Homo sapiens: one gene and its partners. The protein of the gene in region 2 purifies or fractionates together with the protein of the main gene of each other region. This does not show direct contact. Each region holds a gene or a part of one and is shown on either strand. Other genes may lie near its edges.

The links. Proteins that work in one complex are often made in the same cells at the same time.
Region 1: the proteins of GTSE1 (region 2) and ACAD11 purify together in Homo sapiens (co-immunoprecipitation; 4 studies listed by BioGRID and IntAct, with this or other methods). This does not show direct contact.
Region 3: the proteins of GTSE1 (region 2) and PICALM purify together in Homo sapiens (affinity purification with mass spectrometry; 3 studies listed by BioGRID and IntAct, with this or other methods). This does not show direct contact.

What each region holds. Positions count from the first base shown.
Region 1 is NC_000003.12:132,558,236-132,565,909, forward strand, and holds part of ACAD11 (acyl-CoA dehydrogenase family member 11), read right to left. Parts: intron 2,983-7,674; coding exon 2,866-2,982; intron 1,708-2,865; coding exon 1,598-1,707; intron 851-1,597; coding exon 736-850; 3' UTR 1-735. UniProt on the Homo sapiens protein: Acyl-CoA dehydrogenase, that exhibits maximal activity towards saturated C22-CoA.
Region 2 is NC_000022.11:46,313,725-46,321,398, forward strand, and holds part of GTSE1 (G2 and S phase-expressed protein 1), read left to right. Parts: intron 1-165; coding exon 166-289; intron 290-2,307; coding exon 2,308-2,688; intron 2,689-2,786; exon of another isoform or gene 2,787-4,139; intron 4,140-7,674. UniProt on the Homo sapiens protein: May be involved in p53-induced cell cycle arrest in G2/M phase by interfering with microtubule rearrangements that are required to enter mitosis. Overexpression delays G2/M phase progression.
Region 3 is NC_000011.10:86,065,511-86,073,911, forward strand, and holds the start of PICALM (phosphatidylinositol-binding clathrin assembly protein), read right to left. Parts: upstream 3,575-8,401; 5' UTR 3,271-3,574; coding exon 3,141-3,270; intron 1-3,140. UniProt on the Homo sapiens protein: Cytoplasmic adapter protein that plays a critical role in clathrin-mediated endocytosis which is important in processes such as internalization of cell receptors, synaptic transmission or removal of apoptotic cells.

The DNA.
Region 1 (7,674 bases), on a different chromosome or scaffold from region 2:
TAAGGATACCTTTTATAAAGTACTTTCTTGTGGTTTTACAGATTTCAAGGTGCTTCTACGTGGCTTCAGCAATTCTCACAACAAACCCTCAGTGGGTCAGGGTCTTCTAAGATTAAAATGTTAACACCAATGCGTGTGAAGTACAGTGAAGTACAGTGAGGTTAAGGCTCAGTGGCAAACGTTAAAGAGGCCCACACAACACACCAGGGATCAGAGCCAGGTCAAATTCTTGCTCCCCACCTCCACCCCACCTCAAGAAGAAATTTATTTTTTGTTTTTATTTTTAGAAACAGTCTCACTCGGTCACCCAGGCTGGAGGCCATGTCACGATCACAGCTTACTGTAACCTCAAACTCCTAGACTCAAGCAATCCTCCTGCCTCAGCCTCCCAAGTAGCTAGGACTACAAGCATGTGCCACCACACTTGTTTCATTTTTAAATTTTTTGTAGCAATGGGGGTCTCGCTATGTTGCCCAGGCTGGTCCTGAACTCCTGGCCTCAAGGAGGCACTAGATTGAATGACAACAGCTACAGCATTTCTTACTGAACTTAACCCTGTGTGACCCTTGAAATAATAAAACCCACTGATCAAAATAGATGCTATAATCTTTACCACAAATGAATAATTAACCCTGTGCTCAAACTGCTACAAAAATATGAGATTCAAATGTTGGAGCCAATGAAGTTTGTATAAAGGAGAGTTTCTGCCAGTGGGATGTGGCAGTGCCACCCTCCTTATATCTTGGCTGTCAGTCTTTTGGCTTGGTCCCGCAGCTCCATTGTTGCGATTGCTGAAAGATGAACTTCGTCAGGTCCATCTGCTAAACGCAAAACTCGGGTTATAGCATACCTGAAAAAGCAAAAGAATCAGGGAACACAGGGAGTTATGGAAGAGGAACATGATACTTTGACATCAGTCACTCTGATTGTCAACCAAGACTATATTAATTCTTAAATTCCACCAAGGTCAGGGTAAGAAAAAGGGTACCAGGAAAATAAGCTAAAGGGCTTCTGCAATGCCATCTTAAAGTTTCCAACTTGGGAAAGTTAAATGCCAAAGTACAGTGGAGTTCATCTCATTCTTGGTTTGCTACAGTTTACTACATGTTGCTAGAACTTAGAACAGGCAGTGACTGGTATGATACTATATATTTAGTTCTTTCTTAAGGTTTAAAATTGATGAAGGATGAGACTCTATCTCCATTGTGATAGAGAAGGTGACACTGTAATTATGTGTGGAGATGGACAGATGGGGAATGGAGAATGTTCCTTTCTGCCTCCCAGTCATCAGGATCTATATATTAGATAGTCACTGACATGTCCTGCTACAAATTCAGCGAAACCCCATGCTGTATCTACAGCCCAGGAATCCTCAGTGGGACCCCTCAGTGTAAAAATTAACATAATGGAATGAAATGATTATTGTAATAATAAGAGCAACTATTTCTTGGTGTTGAGCTCTATATTAATGTATATCACTTCATTTAGCCTTCAATTACACTGAAAATAAACATAAGCAATTAATGTCAAGGCATCTGTAGATTTTTTACCTCCACGCCTATCAAACGTAGATGATTCTTAAATGACATCTACTCACATGTTAGCCAGAGGGTAATCCTGGGAAACACCAGCACCTCCGCACACCTGGATGGCCCAGTCAACGATTTTGCTGACAGCCCGTGGGGCAGCCACTTTGATCATTGCAATCTATATAAGCAAAATATGAAAAGAATGCTTCTTTCTTAGACTATACACAATGTGGCAAAACTGGGAAATGAAACAAGGAAACTTTCCCACATCCAAGTCACCACTAAAACAGGATCTTTAACAAAAGCCAACAAAGAGATCCTGCTGCAATGCCATATTTCAGTCAATACAGACCCTCTGGAAAGAGACACCTCTTCCAAATCACATTTTATCCATTTATTTCTAACTTGTCTTGTTTCCAAAAGGATTTCAGGCAGCTGATAAATCACACTCATCACCTTAGGGATCATAAAAATAGTCCAAGGGTCTTTGCGCTATTAATCAGGTTTCTTTTAGCAGTTTTATGGGCTTTTAGAATTAAATGATTATGTCTTTATTTCATATAATCCAGAAACATAAGAAAGCAAAGGATGAGAGGTCTCTTTCATGAAACATTTACTATGTAGCAGTATCATGCTGTGCATTTTTTGTTTTGTTATTTGAGACAGGCTCTCACTCTGTCACCCAGAATAGAGTGGAGTGGCTATTCCCAGGTGTGATCATAGCTCACTACTGCTGCCTCAGAATCCTGGGCTCAAGCAATCCCCCTGCCTCAGCCTCCCTGGGACTACAGGTACAAGTTACCATGTCGGCTAATTTTTTTTTTAAGAGACAGGGTCTCACTATGTTGCCCAGGCTGGTCTCGAATCCCTGGCCTCAAACAATTCTCCCACCTCCACTTCCCAAGTAGCTTGGATTACAGGCGAGAGCCACTGTACGTGGCTTCTGCACATTCTATGTACATCATCTTGGTTACTCTTCACAACAACCCTAGGCCTTAGGCAGAAAAGTTAAGTACTTTGCCCGTGATCACAAGGCTAGAAGAAAGTGGCAGAGTGGGTGCAGTTCCAGGGCTGTGTAAAGCCTATGATTTCCCCCATTCCTTGTTGCTGTATCTTAAGAATGCTGAAGATATTCTCCCTCCTGAAAATCATTCCCTAAAGCACTTGCTAGGAGACTAGCAAGTGACAGGCATTTATAATTTATAACCCAAAATCACATGGGGGCTTCCAATATTCTGAGTGCCATCAAGATGCCATGAAAACTGAAATGTCCAACAGGTGAGAGAACTGGAGAAGGCTCAGCAGTTGGTGGTCTGAGGGGAGAAGGTAGCCTCACCTCTTTCTTAGCGCCAGCACTGCCCAGAGTGTCCATGCTGTGAGCAGCTTTCAGAGTCAACAAGCGGATCTTCTCAATGGCAATGCGGCTTTCAGCAATCCAGTGAGCCACAACCTCCTATAGGGGAGGAAAAGGCAGCAAAAGAAGGAGGAGCTAAGCTGGTATCTGATGTCCACGTGTAACACAGTCTTATAGTTTGGTGAAAACACTCTCTAAGCCAGAGATTGTTCACAAGCTTTACTCTATGTATTTTTAAATGGAAGAGTTAATTCATTTGATATACACCAGCCTAACCACATACTTGTGGAATGCTTACAGTTAAAATTGAAATATTTTAGAAAGAAATTTTATTTTCCCAGAAAAATCATTTATTTTGGATATCTTAATGTCTAAGGTAAAGATGGCTGAACTGAGCAACTGCCTTACCGCCAAACCACTCAAAGGCCCTCCTGAATGCTAATTGCCTGCTGTCATGGAAACTTGGCTAAATGTATGGTAGTGAAGCTGCTTACAGGTAAACTAGAAAATTCTCAGCACAATTTCAGTGTGGGGACAGTTCAGCAGCAATTTGCTGTGTTGTTATTGTTATTTATTCATTAAAAATGACCTTTTCTTTAGTAGACAGTTGAATTATAATACATGTATAGATTGGAATAACCACAGTCAAGAACACAGAACAGTTCCATCTCCCACAGAACTCCCTGGTGCTGCCCCTTTTTAGTCACAGGCTCCTCTCACTCCTAACTTCTGGCAACCATTGATAGGTTCTCCATCACTATAGTTTTGCCTTTTCCAGAATGTCATGTAAATAGAATCATATAGCATGTATTGTTTTGAGACCAACTTCTTTCATTCAGTTTAATGCCTTTGAGTTTCATCCAAATTGTTCTGTGTATTGACTGTTCATTCCTTTTTATTGCTGAGTAGTATTCCATTGTAAGTATGTATCAGTTGGTTTATCCATTTGCCTGTTGAAGGACATTTCGGTTGTTGCCAGTTTTTAAATTTTATTTATTTATTTTTTGAGACAGACTGGCTCTGTCGCCCAGGCTGGAGTGCAGTGGCGCCATCTCAGATCACTGCAACCTCCACCTTCTGGGTTCAAGCGATTCTCCTGCCTCAGCCTCTGAGTAGCTGGGACTACAGGCGCCCATCACCATGCCTGGCTAATTTTTGTATTTTTTAGTAGAGACAGGGTTTCACCATATTGGCCAGGCTGGTCTTGAACTCCTGACCTTGTGATCTGCCTGCCTCGGCCTCCCAAAGTGCTGGGATTACAGGCGTGAGCCATCGCGAGATTATTCATAGAGTTTCTGTGTATTTGTATACGGGTTTTTGTGTGGACATGTTTTCATTTTTTAAAGCAGATAGCAGGAGTAGAATTGTTGGGTCAGTGGTAAATGTTTATTAAGAAGCTGACAGTTTTCTAGAGTGGTTGTACATTTTGCATTCCTACTAGCAGTGTATGAGAGTTCCAGTTGCTCCTCAAACCATCAGCACTTAGTATCATATTTTATTTTAGTCATTTTAAGTGTGCAGAGATATCATGGTTTTAATTTGCATTTCTGTAATGGCTACTGCTGTTGATCCCCTTCAATGTACTGATTTGCCATCTCTATACCTCTTTGGTGATATGTCTGTTAAAGTCTTTTGTCCATTTTTTAATTGGGTTGTTTTCTTACTATTTGATTTAGAGAGTCCTTCATATATTCAGGACGCTAGTCATTTGCCACATGAGAAATCTGTCAATTCTTTCTTTTATGAGCCTTGCTTTTGGTGCATGTTTAGGAACATTTTACCTAATCCCAGAAAATGATTTTTCCACTATGTTTTCTTCTAAAAGTTTACAGCTTTACCTTTTACATTTAGATCTATGATCCATTTAGAGTTAAAATTTTGTGTGAGGTGTGTGGTTTAGATCAAGGGTCCCTCTTTTGCCTATCTATGTCCAATTGCTGCAACACCATTTACTGTAAAGATGTAACCTTTTCCATTGAACTGCCTTTGCACCTATGTAAAAAATTAATTGGCCTATATTTCTATGAATCTATTCCTGGACTCTCTCTTCTGCTCCAAAGATCTACATGCCTTTTGCTCACTGATTACTGTAGTTTAGAGTAAGTCTTAAGATTAGGTAGTGTGATTCACTGAGCTTTCTTCTTTTTCAAATTGTTTTGGCTACTTTAGTGTTTTTGTATTTCCATATAAATTTTAGGATCAGTCTGTCTTTATCTACAAAATTGTCCTTTTGGGACTGTGATTGGAACTGCCTTAAGTCTGCAGATCAATTTGAGGATGGTTAACATCTTTAATCTGTTAGTCTTCTAATCTACATATTTACTTAGGTCTCCTTTGATTTATTATATCACTTTTTTCTACTTTTTAGTGCATGTGGATATTGTACGTGTTTTGGTAGAGTAGTACTTAAAAAAAACTGTTGTAAATGGTATTTTAAAACTTTCAGTTCCCCCATTGTTCATTGCTTGTATATAAAAATAAAATTGTTACGTACTGACCTTGTATCCTGTGACTTTGCTAAACTCACTTATTAGTTCTGGGAGGGTTGTTTCGTTTTGTTTGATACGTTCCTTAGGATTTTCTATACAATCACATTGTCATCTACAAGCAGGCCCAGTTTTACTTCTTTTTTCCCCCAACTACATGCACTTTTTTTCTCTTGTTTTACTGCACTGCCTAGGAATTCTTCTATGATCATAAATTGGAATAGTGAGGGTGAACATTCTTGCCTCATTTCCAGTTTTGGGGGAAAAGCATTTAGTCTTTCATCATTAAGTATGATGTTAGATTTTTAAAAATACTCTCTATAAAGTTGAGTAAATTCCTTTGTATTCCCAGTTTGCTGAAAGTTTCTATCATAAACAGATGCTGAATTTTGTCAAATGCCAAAGCATCAATTGATATGATCATGTGATTTTTTTAATGTTCATGCAGTTTTTGCTGTTAGTTTGGCAGATTATAATAATTTATTTTTAATTATCGAGTTATAGACATGAATCAGGCTTGCATTTGTGGGATAAACCCTACTTGATTATGCTGTATGATTATTTTTACATACTGCCAGATTCTATTCGGTAATACTTTGCTGGTGGTTTTTGCATCTATATTGGTCTATGGTTTGTTCTTGTCTGGTTTTGGATTAGGATGATTCTGGCCTCATAAAATGAGTTGACAAGTGTTTCCTCCTTCTCTATTTCTGGAATAGATATGTAAAATTGGTGTTACTTCTTCTCTAACTGTTTAGTAGAATTTACCAGTAATACCATCTGGGCCTGAAGATTTCTTTTTTCAGCAGCTTTTTAACTTTGAATTCAACTTCTAACAATAGTTGTAGAACTATTCAGGTTATCTACTTCATCTTCGGTGAGTTTTGATAGTTCATGGGATTTGAGGAATTGGTCTACTTCATCTAAATTGTTAACTTTATGTGCTTTGTACACATACTAGAGCGTGTGGGTCCCAAGTCCTAGATCTGGAATGGAGGAGACTCTACTTCAGCCTTGGCTCCAGACCCCATTCTCCAATCCATGTTTTCCCAGAGAGCTCTGCATTGTGGCTTACAGACAGCCTACACAGACTAAGAAAATAAGTATGTCTGATATCCTCTGCTTCTAACAAGGATGGAATCGATATATTTTTCTCTATTCCTTCTGTTAAGTACAACTAATAACCCTGGGCATTATCTATAAAACAAACATAAGAAGACTCTGAAAGGTAGAGAAAAGGCAGACTATTTAGGGACTTCAGGTCCAAAAGAATAACCTAGTGGTGTGTTTCCTAGGTTTTCTTTTTGCCTCATATATCTCAGCTGCTGAGGTTCTTCCCGGCAGCTGAAGAATCTAGTAACCTGGAAATGTCAGTGAGCACAGACCAAAACAAAACAAAAACATAAAGCACCCCAACAAAAGTATAATCTCTCTAACCAAAGGATCAGGAAAGATGCAGCCTAGCAAGCCAAAAATCTTTTAGAGAATAACCACTTTACTCCAGCCAAACACCACAGAAAAAACATTGGCCCCCACCACTCCTCACACCAGCAAAGGCAGGATGGGGAGCGTAGGCTTCCACCCTGGCAAGCACTGTAATGAGGTGCCCCAGCTCCCCTGCCAGGAAGGTATCAGACAGTGCCAAGTAAAAACCTGAGGCTTTCCTCCCCACTGGCCAGTAATAAGTCCCCCCAACCCATCTTATGGGTTGTTAGTGCAGTCCAAATGGGATGCCTGGACTTTCATCCCACCTGGCAGTATGAGGGCATCATCCTCTTCAGGTACTGATGGAAGCTGGGAGGGGAACCTGGACTTCTCTCTCTGCCTAGCAGTAATGAGGTGATGCCACTCCTTTCTCTGACAGAATGGTGTCAAAGAAAGCCAAGAAGGTTTAAAAAGGTCCAGAGTCTCACAGTATAAAACTGTTCAGGTTTCAATTTTATAAATCACCCATAATACCAAAAACCTGGAACAATTCAAAATTAATTTTTAAAAAATAAAGAGACACCGTGATATAGTTTGGATGCTTGTCTCCTCCAAATCGCATATTGAAACATGAAGGTGGAACCTAGTGGGAGGGTCATGGGGGAATATCCCTCATAAATGGTTTTATGCCTTCTCTTCAGTAATGAGTTCACATGAGATCTGATTGTTTAAAAGAGTCTGGGATGTCCCCCCTTATCTCTCGTTCCCTCTGTTGCCACGTGATGTGCTGGCTCCCCCTTTACCTTCCACTATGATTGTAAGCTTCCTGAGGTCTCCCCAGAAATAGACATTGGCATTAGGCTTGTACAGCCTGCAGAAC
Region 2 (7,674 bases):
TCTCAAACTCCTGACCTTGTGATCCTCCGGCCTCAGCCTCCCAAAGTGCTGGGATTACAGGCGTGAGCCACCGTGCCCAGCCAAAAACCCCTTACTTTTGCAGACACAAGTAATAGGTAAATAACGAGATCTTTGCTGATTCTGTTTTTTCACATTTTGCCCCAGTTGGGGCTGAAGAAGACCCTGTTAAAAGCACCCGGCTCTACCAGCAATCTCGCAAGGAAGTCCTCCTCGGGGCCTGTTTGGAGCGGGGCATCCAGTGCGTGCACATCCCCAGCAGTGGGCAAAGGTGAGGCAGCCGGCATCATGCTTGGACCCACATCTGGCCAGGTGAGGCCTGGAGTGCTGCTCAGGCCTTGGAGACTGTTTCTGCAGAACCACTTAGGCTTGGCAGGACGTCCCGGAGGGCGTGCTGTGTGCGGTGGACCAGGCTGTGGACTGAGTTGCTGTACCTGCCCTCAGTGCCTCTGTCCCATGAGGAGGGCACACTCAGATGGGTGGCTTCAGTCTACGGGGTACACATGGCCAGAAAGCATGTATGATACCCCGTGCCTGAGAACATGGACACTGGAATCACCCTCATGTCCATGTCATGAGACACCAGTTTTAAAATAGGACTATTCCAGATAATGTAGGGCATATGGCCCCATAACTCCTGGGTGCCTGTTTAAATCCATGCTCCCACACCTGTTTGAGGTCAAGCCACATTTCAACCTTGCCAAGCCACAGCTGCCATCTAGTGGTAAGGGAAAGCCTTCGCCTTTCTGCTCTTCAGAGCGAAATCCTCTTCGAGGTGCATTGGCCATGTGGCGTCTCGGGGTCGTTCAGGGCAGCATGGTGTGGATTGTGTTCACAAAATGTAAAAAGTGGGCCGGGCGCAGGGGCTCACGCCTGTGATCCCAGCACTTTGGCAGGCCAAGATGGGTGGATCGCTTGACCCCTGGAGTTTGAGACCAGCCTGGCCAACATGGTGAAACCCTGTCTCTACTAAAAACACAAAAACTAGCCGGGCATGGTGGCGGGTGCCTGTAGTCCCAGCTACTCGGGAGACTGGGCCACGAGAATGGCTTGAACGCGGGAGGCAGAGGTTACCATGAGCCGAGATTGCATCACTGCACTCCGTCTCAAAAAAAAAAAAAAAAATGATAAGTGTGAACTCTCTAATCAGATTGATCTGATCTGGAATTCTGACTCTGCCATTCTGTGATTAAGAGAGGTTTGTGTCCTTATCTTTATAGACTGAGGTGATGACCTCCTGAGATCAAGCAATCCTCCCACCTCAGCCTCCTGAGTAGCTGGGACTACAGGCACATGCCACCACACCCGGCTAATTTTTGTGGGTTTTTTTTTTTTGAGATGGAGTCTCACTCTATTGCCAGGTTGGAGTGCAGTGGCGCAATCTTGGCTCACTACAACCTCTGCCTCCCGGGTTCGAGTGATTCTCCTGCCTCAGCCTCCCAAGTAGCTGGGACTACAGGCACCTGCCACCACGCCCGGCTAATTTTTGTATTTTTAGTAGTGACGGGGTTTCACCATGTTGGCTAGGATGGTCTCGATCTCTTGACCTCGTGATCCGCCCGCCTTGGCCTCCCAAAGTGCTAGGATTACAGGCACGAGCCACTGCGCCTGGCCCACATTTTTGTGTTTTTTGTAGAGAGGATGGTCTCACTATATTAGCCAGGCTGGTCTCGAACTCCTGGCCTTGAGTGATCTCTTGCCTTGGCCTCCCAAAGTGTTTGGATTACAGGCGTGAGCCACCACTCCTGGGCTAAAGTTTTTCTTTAAGAATCCTTTACCAGATCGTCTGCGTATATTGGTAGCTCAGTATGTATTACCCTAGTTTATCTGGTCTTCTATTTTAAATAGTGCTTATGGTTAATATGACGCAGCCTCCTTGTAATTTTAAAGGAATCAACCAGTAACAATTGCGTCTTTTTTCCTTGTTCCCTGCCCACCTCTGTGACCAGACAGGTGAGACATGTGACTAGACTATCCCCTTCCATCTGCTCAACTAATGTAGATTTCTCCTGCCAACATAATCAACGAAGATAGGAGAGCTTGAATTTATGCATGCTTATGTACATGTTAGTAATTATTTTGAGAATAAGTACCTTAGAATACACTCAGCTAAGCTAAAAGCTGCCTGAGCCATCCTGTGTTTGATGATGTTGCCTGAAGGGCTTATAGAATATTGTTAATGTGTCTTATGTTTAAGGTAGATATGCTAAAGACAGCATAACTTCTGTGTGTTTGTTAAATAGCTTCATACTTTTATAATAATGTGATTTTTGTGTGTATACCTTCTAGCTAAATCAAGTGAATTTGCAAGTATTCCTGCAAATAGCTCCCGGCCTCTGTCAAACATCAGCAAGTCAGGCAGAATGGGACCCGCCATGCTGCGGCCAGCTCTGCCTGCAGGCCCTGTGGGGGCATCCTCCTGGCAGGCCAAGCGGGTCGATGTTTCTGAGCTGGCAGCGGAGCAGCTCACGGCACCCCCCTCAGCATCCCCCACCCAACCCCAGACTCCGGAAGGTGGCGGCCAGTGGCTGAACTCCAGTTGCGCTTGGTCAGAATCTTCTCAATTGAATAAGACTAGAAGTATCAGACGGCGAGATTCCTGTCTAAATTCCAAGACAAAGGTTATGCCTACTCCTACAAATCAATTTAAAATTCCTAAGTTTTCTATTGGTGAGTAATAGATACATTTTAATGTGTCTTTAAAAAATACTGAAGAAATTGCATTTAAAGTTTTAAACAATTATTGATGGCATTGATGGTGTTTTTAGTTCTTTCCTCCAACAGTGCTTTCAGGTGTGACCCGCTGTCTTCTCGCCCACGTTGTTTTGGGGGGTCACTGGAGGCTCCCTGAATGTCTTACGTTCGTTCCTGTGTGTGTGACACCCCAATGCTCGTAGGCTGCTTGTAAGGTTTTCTCTTTAGTGTTACTGTCGGGAATTTGATTATTATGTGCTTTGAGGTGGCTTTCTTTGCCTTTATCCCGCTGAGGGTTTCTTAAGCTTCTTTGATCTGTGGGTTGGTTTTTTTCAGCAAATTTGGAAAACGTTGGCCATTATTTCTTCAGCTATCTTTTCCTCTTTCCACTTTATTTCCTAGGACTCTAATCACATCTATTTCAGGCCTCTTGACGTTGTCTCACAGGACACCGAAGCTCTGTTCTTTTTTTTATTTCAGCCTTTTTTCTTTTTCTTATCTTTTTTCTTTTCTTTCTTTCTTTTTTTTTGTTTTTTGTTTTTTGAGACGGAGTCTCGCTCTGTCACCCAGGGTGGAATGCAGTGGCGCGATCTCAGCGCACTGTAACCTCCACCTACCGAGTTCAAGCAATTCTCCTGCCTCAGCCTCCCGAGTAGCTGGGATTACAGGTGCCCACCACCACACCCGGCTAATTTTTTTTTTGTATTTTTGGTAGAGACGGGGTTTCGCCATGTTGGCCAGGCTGGTCTGGAACTCCTGACCTCAAGTGACCCACCCATCTCGGCCTCTCAAACTGCTGGGATTATAGGTGTGAGCCACCGTGCCCGGCCCAGCCTTTTTCCTTGAGCTACAGTTTGGGTAGTTTCTGTTGTCAGATATCATTTCTTCTGCAGTGCCTAACAGCTGTGAAGCCCATCCAGTTAACTTTGTTTCTAACATAATAGTTTCCCCTTATTTCTTCTCATGGTACTTGGGTTTTCTTTTACATCCTCGTGAGCAAATTGATAATGGTTTTAGGGTCTACGATTCTTCTCATACCATCTTCCCCATCATTTTGGGGTCTGTTTCGACTGACTAATTTTGTTTCCGGGTTTTGGCCTCATTTTCCTGCCTCTACATTTTTCACAAGTTTTTCTTGGTTGTTGGATATTGTCAGGTGTACACTTTTGAATGTCTGGATTTTGTTGTCTTTCTCTGAGGAGTTGGGTTGGGCTTGGCAGGCAGTTAAGGTGCAGATCATCCTTCCGAGGCTTTTTATGCTTTGAAGTGGTGGGTCTAGCATAGCCTTTCCGCCTCCCGCCACCGGCGTCCTTCCCAAGGCCTCTGCTGCACACCCGTGTGTCCCGCAAGGCCCGCGAGACCCCTGCACTCCTGCTGCTGCAAGATGACACCTTCTCGGCCCTGTGAGCTCCGCTCGTTGCTCCCTGGTAAGACGGCGGTTTCTCGGCCCTGTGAGCTCCGCTCGTTGCTCCCTGGTAGTTGCTCTTCTCTTGACCTTGAGGACTCCTGCCCTGCACCTGTGCACTGCCTGGTGCTCAGCCAGAGACTCGAGATTCCCTTGGGTTCCTAGAGCTCGTTCTGTCGGAGTAGCCCCCTCCTCTCTAGTTTCTGGCCCTCAGATTGCAGCCACCTCAGCCTCCTGAGCTCCAGCCACTGCCTTCTCCAGTCAGTGAGGCCACTGGCCCCAGCAGGTGTCTGGCCATTAGTGGGTGGGTGTTTGTAAAGTTTTCATGAATTTCTTGAACAATTGTGTGCAATGCAGAAAGTTCTCAGAGCTGACTTAAGGTGAGAGGAGCGTCCTGGCCTCCTCTGTCAGGCAGATCTGCCCTCTGGGTGCTTGAGGATTTTAAGTTCTGGCAGTGCCGGCCAGCACAGGCAGCCTGCAACTCCCAGAAACTGCATTCTGAGTCCTGCTGTAGGAACAAGCTGTTCTGCTGAGTGTCTTCTCTGTGCTGGAATGCTTTGGGGGACAAGGGACATCATGATAAGACAGACCTACTCTCACAGAATTTCTGTTTAATAGGAAAAGATACGAAATGTTATCAGATGAGCAGGCCTGCAGATCCTAGCACAACAAAGGGACTAAGGGAAGATGGTGTCCTGGAGCTGGCATGTTTGGGGAGGAATTTGCATCGGGTGGTTCTTTGGCAAAGATGGTCAGGAGGTGACACGGGACTGAGATCTGAACCAGGAGACTGAGGCAGCCGGTAGGAAAGTGCAAGGGGGAGCACTCCAGGCAGAGGCAACGGCAGGAGTGCAGAGGTCCTGGGGCAGGAAGGCGTGGGACGTGCTCTGGGAGCAGCATGGGGGCCGGAGGGTGGGAGTGCAGCCGCTGCGGTCGGGATTCTGCGTAGACGTGCGACAGCTGGTCAGTACTCCTTGGTGTCAGGGACCCAGGCTTACTCCATCCTGTGCTGCCGTGATGAGCTTCTCATCCTCATGGTCTAGTGTGGCTGCACCGGCTCTGGCCCTCATACCTCCCGGCAGGAAGCCTTCTTCTAGGTGAAGAAGAGCAAATCCCCACCTTTCAAGGACCCTCACTGCAAGTTGTCCCTGTGACTCCGTTTGTGTCCCATTGAGTACGACGCTTCCCTGCACAGGATGCTAGGACACGTTGTCTTTATTCCGCACACAGCTGAAATTTCTTACTGAGAAGAGGAAAGTTGCTGTTGAACAAAAACTAGCAACCTCAGCCAGTCAGTGACCGAGGGGCAGGGTAAGAAGAGATGAAGATGGAGGGGCAGCCCGAGGCCGGCTCCCAGAGCGCCGCGTGACCAGAGCGGACCCTGGAGTACCGTCAGTGCAGGAGGACGTGCATAGGAGAGATCAGAGCAGAGCGACTTGACCTTCAGAAGGTCCCTCCACAGAGGGAAGAGCAGAGTCTCTGGGCCGAAGAGTGGTGGGGAGGGTAATGCGGACCTGGCCCTCACTGTGTTGGGGAGGAAGCTAGTGCTGGGGAAGGAGGCTGGAGCGCTGCGGTCTGCCTGACGTTCTGGTAGCTTAGGGCTCATGTGGCAGTGCAGAGAGGGACTCGAGTGTCCCTGAGGTTCTGGCGGAACCTGGGTGCTGCCACTCATGTGACAGGAGGGCTGGAAGAGGCAGCGGGCAGAGTCCACGGCCCCATTTTGGAAGTAGTGAGGGTGAGAGGCCACTTAGGCTGCAGCTGAGGGGTGGAGCAGGCTGAGAGCTCAGAGGAGAAGCCACAGCTGGAGACCTCAGTGTAGGTTTCAACAGCAGAGAGCTGAGTTTGTAGAGATGGGAGCTGTGAGCTGGGCACGGTGGCTAACTCCTGTAATCCTAGCACTTTGGGAGGCCGAGGTGAGCAGATCACCTGAGGTCAGGAGTTCGAGAGCAGCCTGGTCAACATGGTGAAACCCTGTCTCTACTAAAAATAGAAAAATTAGCCAGGCATGGTGGCGCATGCCTGTAATCCCAGCTACTTGGGAAGCTGAGGCAGGAGAATCACTTGAGCCAGGAGGCAGAGGTTGTAGTGAGCCGAGATGGTGTCACTGCACTCCAGCCTGGGCGACAGAACGAGACTGTCTCAAAAAAAAAAAAAAGAAAGAAAGAAAGAAAAGAAATGCGAGCTGTGATTGGGTGGGTTCTGCAGGGACACCCTACGGCCCAGGTCATGTGGAGGTGTGTTCAGTAGTGTTTGCTTCCCTTCTGCCTGAATGCCTGGAGCCAGGACATGCGTCTGCCATGTCTCTCCTGACCACGTTGGCACAAGTGTTGGCTGGTCTCCTGGCTGTCGGGCTGCTTGATGCCACAGGACTTCTGCTAATCCCAAATCCCTGTTGGCTTTGCCCTGTTTCCCAGAGCGTGTCCCTGCGGTCTCCTTACGCACCTCTCAGATGTGCATTTCACCTTCGGCAGGCGGTTCCTCCTCTCTCCACAATGCTGGGAACAGGACTGTCTCTTGCACGCCTTTGGTCATTCATCAGGGTCAAAACTGGTCCCACAAACTCAGCACTGGCCGGAAGAGAGGCCCCAGGGGAGCAGCCACGCTGTTGGGAACACACAGCTCTGGGAGGCACGTGGTGGTGTGCACTTTTTGGCTGAGAGCACTGGTGGTGTTGCTCATTGGCTGTGACACCAGCTGTCACCGTGGAGGAGAGGTGAGGGCTGAGGGCACTCACAGCGTGGGACCACATGAACGGTGCCCTGTAGTGGAGGCTTTCATATGTGCACTTTCTCAAAATACTCGAGGCAAGCAGCATTCTTTGTAAAACAGTCCAGTTACAAATGTTGCTATTTACTATGAGTCCATGCTGCCGGGTCACCCAGAGGATTGAGACTTGGAATTCTGGCTGTGGGCTTTGCCTCCCCGGTACTGGGAGCTGCAGTGGAGACGCGCCGTCCAGGTTTAGGGAAGAGCTGATGTGGGCCTGGGAGGCGTGCGTGCTCAGGCAGCCCTAGGGCAGTCGTGAGGGTGTCAGGAGATGGCTTGTTCGTGTTCTGTTTCATAAGAATGACCTTCCCGTGCCACCATGGAAGCTGCTGAAGAGTGCGCTCCACCCAGCTGAGGGAGAGGACAACCGAGAGGAAGGGGTCTCGGGAGAGAGGGAGCCAACACGGGAGGCGGCAAGGGAGAGGGAGGCGGCGAGGGAGAGAGAGGTGGGCTTGCCTCCACACCCGCCAGGAGTGACCAACTTGGGTCTCACAGAGACCTCTGTGAATGGTGCGGGGTCAGTGACCCAAGAATGTTCCCAAAAGACAGGGATTATGGGATGACTTAGTCACAGACCACCCCACTCCATACAAGAAAACAAACACCAGCCTGGGCGACACAGTGAGACCCCGATTCTACAAAAACATTTAGCTGGGCATGGTGCTGGGCACCTGTAGTCCCAGCTACTTGGGAGACTGAGGCAGGAAGATTACTTGAACCCAGGAGTTCAAGGCTGCAGTGAGCAGTGATCAAGCCACTGCACTCCAGCCTGGGTGACAGAGCAAGACCTT
Region 3 (8,401 bases), on a different chromosome or scaffold from region 2:
AATGGAATTAGAAGCTACTTTCTATGTATATGAATTGCCCCCACCTCCAGCTGTGAGACAGGATTAAATGAGATGATGAGAAAGTGCCTGGAAAACTGAAGTTCTTCAAATATAAGGGCTGCTATTCCTCTACCTTGATTATGGCTACTAAAGGCCTAAGATTAAACGGAAATCGTGTTTATTTTTACAAACATATTTCAAGTTTGACAACTCTTTCACACTAGGGATGCTAGTCAACACTATTATCCACTAACACCTACAGTATAAGCAAAGCAAAAAAATCTTTCTTCAGTAAGTATATAATGTAGTATGAATTAAGCCATAATTCATGAATTATTAATAATCACTTCCTAATGTGGAAAGATCTTGGCGAGAAACTGACAGAAACCACCTCCACACTCTAAGGGCTTATACGAAAAACAACAGTCCTAAGCATATTTTTTGTTAAATGCTGCCATTTTAAAATGAAATCATTTTCATTAGATTCATATAAATAAGCATCAGTTGCTAGGGGCATTAAAAGGTGCACATAAACTAAGCTTTCACTATAAAGAAAAATTCCTAAAAGACAAAAAATTACTTGAAATGACAGGTTTCTGTATTAAAGCCTAAAGTTCATGATGTCAACACCATGAACTGTCCGTAGAAGACTTTTTAATTTTCTCAAAGCATGTTAGTGTGTGCAAGGAAGGTATTTGTTTAGTAAACCACTCACTGGTCAGACTTTACCTAAGATAAAGGTATTTTATTAGTGAGAACTGATTACAGGACATTTTAATCAACAATGTAGGGAAAATAGTATCCCTGTATTTTAAAACCTCATTGAAAAGAAACAGAAGCACATTAACGACACATATATTTTTAAATCAAATACTACCAGGTATATTCAAGTTCCAAAAACGTGGGAGCTTGTAAACACAGAAGTGGTAGAGAAAAAGAACGACAAATGCAAGATTATCCTCCAAACCTAATCCCAGTTACCATCTATCTGCAGTAGTGGCTATAACAAGAGAAATAGCTAATAACATTTATGAAACAACATGCAAATAGCACTCTTCTAACCCTACCTATTTTCTCCTCTTTTTGACAATGCTTTAAAAGAACCACTGCTACATTTGAAATAAGACACAAACCTTTACAAAAAAAACTTTTAAAAGCCTTATCGATTCTTATTTTGAATGAGGAAAGAGGAAAATAGTTCACACAGTCACAACTAGTTTCTTCATACTCCCATACAAAAAAAAAAAACAAAAAAAAACCAAAAGCAACTAACAAAAGAATTAACACAGTGTCAGGACAAACTGTAAGATTTGGTAGGGCAAACCAAGTAGTATTTGAAGAGCCGTAAATAGCAGAAACGTCTACTACACGTATCAGATAATCAAAAAATCACATATGGCTTTACGATGCATTTTAAAAAGTTTTCTGTTCATAAGAGTGTCACCATTTAAACATATTCTCCATTCTCTAAGACAAGCAAGGACTGAGAGTTTAAAAGCAGCCTGCATGCATATCTGAAAGAATCAAGCACTAATGCTTTTTTATTTAAAACTTTTTTCCACAGTGGAGGAACAATCACAAAGAATAATAGGCTTCTGTGTAGCAAAAACTTGTTCTAACAGCATTCATGAGCACAGTAACTTGGAAGAATCTACATTTCGTACATTTTTTTTAAAGTGCAAACTTTACGGCCAAAGTCCAAATGAGAAATCAAAACAGGCTTCCAGACAGTGAATTATCTTTCAGGGCATGCTCACTCTTGCTTCAAACAGTAAAACAAAGTAACTTTCATGTATGATGAAAGTCAGTCAGACTAATGTGTCCAGTCATTTAAAAAGGGAACTTACTTATCGTGACTATTGCCCTATTTTTCCCTGAAAAGTTTCAGGTCTAAGCTCCATTGGCTTGAGTGATCCAATGAGCTTTGTACCCTGGGGTAAAAGAGCGCAAAGAAAAAGGAGGGTATTACAGGTGACTTCCAGGTTAGAAAAAAGTTACGAGGAGTTAGCTCTACTAATTGTATCTACGTTAGCGAATGGACGAATACTATGTCGTGTAAGAGAAGCTAAAGCTAGTTCCTCAAAAGGTAACTGGCATAATTAAAACATCCAAACTCAAGCATCATCAAACATCATTTTGCCAATTTTTTTAAGGGATGTATGTTATTTGTAAGTAAATTTATTAATCCATTTGGAATTCCAACAGTCTACGCTTAACACTCAAGCTTCTGAATTCAAGCCGCCAGAATTAACAGTTCCAGGAACTGATAAGAGTATCAGCAAAATGCCTTTTTCCATATCCCCATGTGAAAAGCTGGGGGGCAGAGCTGACAGTCACAAACTCACCCCAGTCAAAAGTATGGACAACACAACGATTAAATTCCACCAGAGGCAAATAAAAATCCCAACTTTCCAGAAAGCTTTCCCTACACCAAATTGAATCCTTTTACTTTCACTCCCACAAAGAAGGTAATCTGAAATAAAAGTCGGGTAACTGGGTATGGTATTTAAAATGAGTCGAAGAAACTACACTGAAGCTACTATAGAGGCGATGAAAAGGTAACCCAAAAGCAGGAGGGAAGGTGGAACAGAAAGCCAGGAAGGGATGGGCGAAGCAGCTAGTGGAGCAAAGGAAGTGGGGGATCCCTTCCAGGGAGGCAGCCCGGAGGGATAACAAGGATCTGGATGCAAGGAACCAGGCGTTTACTGAAACCCGAAGGAGGCTGATGAAGAAACAATGGGGCTTGGAGACGCTCAGACGAGGGCGACGAGGCGGCACCGGACGGGTGGGAAGGAAGAGCAGAAGGCTGCAGTGGAGACGGGTAGGGGGTGAGAAGCCAGGTGGGGAAGCAAGTTGGTTGGGTATGATGGGGTGTGGTAGCGCACCGGGCAGGGAGACGAGGGTCCCCTAGGAATAGGGAGGGGAGTGGCTTGTCAGATTTTGAGACGGGGAGCGGAGGCCGTGAAGGCAGGTGTGATGGAAGCAAAAGAACACAGCTCAACGGGCACAGGACCGGCCGTGCCAGAGAAGACGCAGGGAGGGAAGAGGCAGTAGAAGGGTGAAAGACAAGAGAGAGAGAGAAGGACGCGCGCGGGTCGCGCGGGCGCCGGGGAGCGGGGGCCGCGGTCGGCTTCACTCACAGTCCAGGTGCTTTTTCTTGGGCCCCATGATCTCGTGGGTCGTGGCCTTGCATACTGTCTTGGATACGGCAGAGCCGGTGACACTGTGCTGGGCGGCAGTGATTCGGTCCGTCAGGCTCTGGCCGGACATCTCTGCAGCTCCTCCACCACCCCACCCGCTCAGCAGCCGGCGGGGACTGGGACCCCCAAGAGCCGGAGGGTCCCCACCCCCCACCGCACCCCCTACCCCCACCGGCTCCTTCCCCGCCTGCCGGCCTGGGGCGCGGTTCGGGGCCGCGCGCTGCCACCAGTCCAGAGAGAACCGGCTCGTGTCACCCGCGGAGTCGGACAAGATGTCGGGCACTCCCTTGCCCCCGCCTCAGTTCAGCCCACCCCTTCCCGGGTCAGCTGGAGCCGGGCAGGGTAAGAGGAACAGGCAGCTGCAGGAAAATGGCGGCGCCAGGCTCCTCCTCGGAGCTTTCCGGGCTGCCCCGGGTCACGTGACTCGGACACCGCCCCTCCTCCCTTCTCCCGCCCCTTTCCCCTTCCCTTTCCTCTTCGACGCCCGCCCTCCCTCGCTCAGCGAGGGAAGAGCTGGGCGGCGCCCGCGCGTTACGTGATGGAACTCGCCAGGCGGGCGCAACAGGAGGCCCGCCCGAGGGGAGTGCACAGCCGGCGCATCACGTGACTCTCCCTGCCAACAGGTCGCCTGAGGCTCGGCCCGCGGGGTCACAGACGCCGGGCGGGGCGGGGCGGGAGAGGAATGGCGAGGGCGGTGTGCTGGCGGGGGTGGGGCGGGGCGGCAGGCTTCTCCCCTTATCCCCCCACCTCAAGTGTGTCCTCGTGTCTGTGGTTGAAACCAACAGCTTGACAAAGGAGGTGCAGCTGCCTTCACAGCTTCCCCTGAAGTGGGGGGTATTAGGCCTCTGGCTCCCCGAGCTTTCCCAGCAGAGTCAAGAATGTATTTCAAGACGCCTCCCAAAGCCGCCCTCCTGGCTTAAAGGAGAAGGTTCCAAACGGCCTATTTTCTGAACCTTCCAGCAGGCCTCTCTCTACCATGGAACTATTGAAGCTCTCCTTATTTACTTACCCCAGAAAGGTTTTTTCCCCCCTTTCCTTGAGAGGCTTGGAAATGTCACCTGGTTTTGTTTATCTCTACTCCGAAAACCCGACACGTTGCTGCCATTCTAAATTTAGATACTAGCTGGCCGGTATTCATTCTCTAGGGTGTGGAATAGGACAGGAAACACATAGCTTCACTGGAATTTGAAAAGGGAAGTAGTAGGATGATGTCAACAGCGATTAGCTTGACCCTACATGGCTGACTGCTGTGGTGATTAAAGGTCCAGACCATAGAAGGAAGTGAGAGGGGCGGTAAATGGAGAAGTCCCATTCAAACAGTCCAGACATCACTGCCTGCCATCTCCCCTGGTTTAGTCTTTCTTACCTTTGGCCTCTTTTCTCTTATTGGGTGAGCCAGATTTCCATGGAAAGACGTTGACACTGCCCTGTGGACATTTTAAAAGAAGTATTACATCCTGAAATACTATTCAATGAGACCCAGACCATACATTAACAAAGCCTTTTATATGTTATTAGAGCCTCTACATTCAACCCAGGGTTAGGGATAAGTTGAAAAATATGTGAGTGCTAAGTTACCATGATAGTCACATGTAATCTTGCTAGTTTCAAATGAAATGCTAACATTCTCAGAAAGTCTGTGTACACCATCTGCCAGCCAAATCCAAAATACTGTGCTTCAATCTGGTGACTCTCAAAGGATGCAAAGCTGATAGATATTTAACATTTTATGTATCATATCAGGAATTTTGTGGTCTCCCATTTTCCCCACGCCCCCTCACCCCTCTTTTTTCCCCACTATGGCTGGTGAAATTCTGCAGCAACATGCTCTTGCCAAGAACACACAAGTTTTTAATCCCAGCAGGCTTCATCTTTGTCAAGCCAGCCTCCAATTTCACAAAACTATAATGAATTCCTTCAGTGTACTGCAATCCATCTGTGGTTTGGTGCCCAGTTTGCTGCCCCACGTCCACTGGGCAGTGGAATTACCAAATTCTCAAGACATGTTATCAGCCATCATTGCTACTGGTCTATGGGTTCCACTGTATAAGTTACTGATTGGCCTGAGCCTCTGCATTGGTAAACCCCAATCTGAGGTCAACACTAACATGGTCTAGCTATCAACAGCTGAATATTTTATCCTTAGGGAAAATGCCAGTCATTCCTAAGTACATAACAGGAAAGTATTACACTATTACTTTTACCAAAGAGGTTCTTTCAGACCACTTTTGTGACAATAATTGTTGACATGTTTACCCTATTAACAAACAAGCTGCTGTTAGAAATATTTTATTTTTTTCCAAGTATACATAGTAGAATTTCTAACTATGTAAATAATCAGTAATCATTGAAGAGGTTTATGTGTGGTTGTGAACTGAAATATATGGAGAAATTTAAAAGAAGATGGGGAATTGTTCTAAGGGTAGACATTACTGACCTATGTTGTCTTATATGCTTAAGTTTTCTGTGTCAGTTTCCTTGGTCTATTCAGGAAATATCTCTACCTGAAGTTCCACAGATGCCAACTCACCATGGCCAATACTGAACTTCTCTTGCCCTTGCCCAGCATCCTACATCTTTAATCCATACTGTTCCCTATATCCGTTAATGGCCTCACCACATGTCCAGAAGCTCCGCTCAGAAAGCTGTGATTCTGAGTTCTCCTTCTGTCTTATTTCCCTCATCAAGCCTAATCTACTTTTATCTCTCAAACACATCCCATCTCTAACCCCACTTCTGTTGCCTTAGTTCCAGCCTTTATGATCTCTGTTATACTAGACTGTTTTAGTAACTTCTTAGCTGATTCTCTGTCTTTTATACCCTGACTCTCCAATTCAGATCCTTCTGAAACCAAAATGTGATTGTCTTTTCTTTGCATTAAAATCTTCCAGTAACTCCCCCATCGCTACCCTAAAGGATGAAATTAAGAACTCTCAACCTGGCATACATGGTTCTTCATGATCTGGCCTCATTTTAGAAGTTTCTAAGTATGTAAATAATCAGTGACCATTGTAGAGGTTTATGTGTAATTGTGAAATGAAATACATGGACCAATTTAGAAGAAGATGGGGAATTAGAACTAAGAATAGGCATTACTGACCTACTTTATCTTATATACTTAAGTTTTCTCTGTGTCAGTTTCTTCAGTCTATTTAAGAAATATCTTACCTGAAGTTCCACATGTGCCAACTCACATGGCCACCTAAACCTGTTGAGCCTTGTCTCTTCCCATTCCTCTAAATTCCCCTACCTACCTACTACTTGTTGAGCCTCATCTCTTCTGATTCCTTTAAATGCACTCCAGACAGTATCACACTACTTGACATACTTGGATGTCATGCTGTTTCACATACCAATAAGCAGTTACTGATTTCCTTTTGTTACTCATATATCCTTCTGTTCTCTAATTATTATTGTGATTGACTAATTGCACTAACATGGGGGTGCAGAGATACATCCATGCTAGTATTATGGTTGATGCAAGGTAGATACACAGTAGATGGTGATTGAACGAATGAATGAGAACGCTTTGAAATCACGCATTCGGACACACCATCACTCCAAACCTCTCATTTGATAAAATCTGCCCACTTTTTCACACATTTAGCATGTCTACTGGGCATGGAGGCATAAGCCTATAGTCATAGCTACTTGGGAGGCTGAAGCAGGAGGATCCCTTGAGCCCAGGAGTTTAAGCCTGCAGTGAATTATGATCCTACCACCGCATTCCAGCCTGGATGACAGAGCAAGACACTGTTTCTAAAAATAAATAAAGCATGTCCATCCCATAATTATCTGGTTGGAGCATCATCCTTATTCAGTACCTTGTTAATTAATTTACTCTTTCAAAAAATATGTGTTGAACTGTGTGTCAGGCATAAAGGTTCTAAGTGCCAAACACTATTTACAGTGAACCCATCAGTCCTTTGGGAACTAGTTAGTTCTCAACTTGAAGGCCTCTTTGCTTTGATTGTAAAGGAGCAGACCAAAAACAGAAGGAAAAAACTTGAATAACACATTTCCTAGGTATTTCCTAGGCTCTTCCAACTAAAAGGTATGTTGTAGAGAGGCAGGGAGTGTTCGGAGAAGGAGCAGGTTTTTTTTATTGCCTCCTATGTGCTAAAAACACTACATTTTAAAAATGTAATGCTCATAACAATAATTTCAAAAAGTATCATGTCCAAGTATCGTGCCCATCCAATACAAGAAAACAGACAAGTCTTGGAAATTTTTTTTTTTTTTTTTTTGAGGCAGTCTTGCTCTCTTGCCCAGGCTAAAGTGCAGTGGCATGATCTCGGCTCACTGCAAGCTCCACCTCCTGGGTTCACGCCATTCTCCTGCCTCAGCCTCCTGAGTAGCTGGGACTACAGGCGCCTGCCACCACGCCTGGCTAATTTTTTGTACTTTTAGTAGAGACGGGGTTTCACTGTGTTAGCCAGGATGGTCTCGATCTCCTGTCCTTGTGATGCGCCCACCTCAGCCTCCCAAAGTGCTGGGATTACAGGCGTGAGCCATCGTGCCCGGCCAAGTCTTAGAAATTGAGTAACTTTCCAAAATCCCACAGATACTAAGTGGCAGAAGCAAGATTTAAAAAATAATTATCCTTCCAATACTCTGCCCAGACCCTTTAGCCAGTACTTGAAGCAACTGCCAATATAGACTAAATTTATTCAACAGATAGTTCTTGCCTTCCTGCCATGTGCCAGGCTTTTCTAGACGCTATGATAAAATAATGTGCAAGACAAACAGGGCCTCTGTTCTTAGAGATCTTAGTGTCTAAGTCTTAACAAAGGAGAAAATAGGTAAAAGTATGCTGCACCTGAGGAACCTTAAGTCATCGTCAATGACTTAAGAAAGTGGCAGAGAAAAGGAATATGGAAGAGAGAATTGACCAGAATTTTTACTTTTATTATAACACTTTGTTATCTAAATTATAATCTTTTGATATTAAGCTAACTAAACTGATATGAACACATGGCAAACCCTTCCCCCCTCACCTTTCTGTGTTTACACTTCCTGATGCTGCCAAATCAGTTAGAGATCATAACTTCACATAACCTTAAAAAGGTAAGGACTTTTCTTCATAGCTAAGTTCCCTTGCTAGAACCTCTAAACAAATAAAGTCATGTGCCGCGTGACATTTCAGTCAACAACACACCACAGATACAGTGGTGGTCCTATAAATTATAATACCATATTTT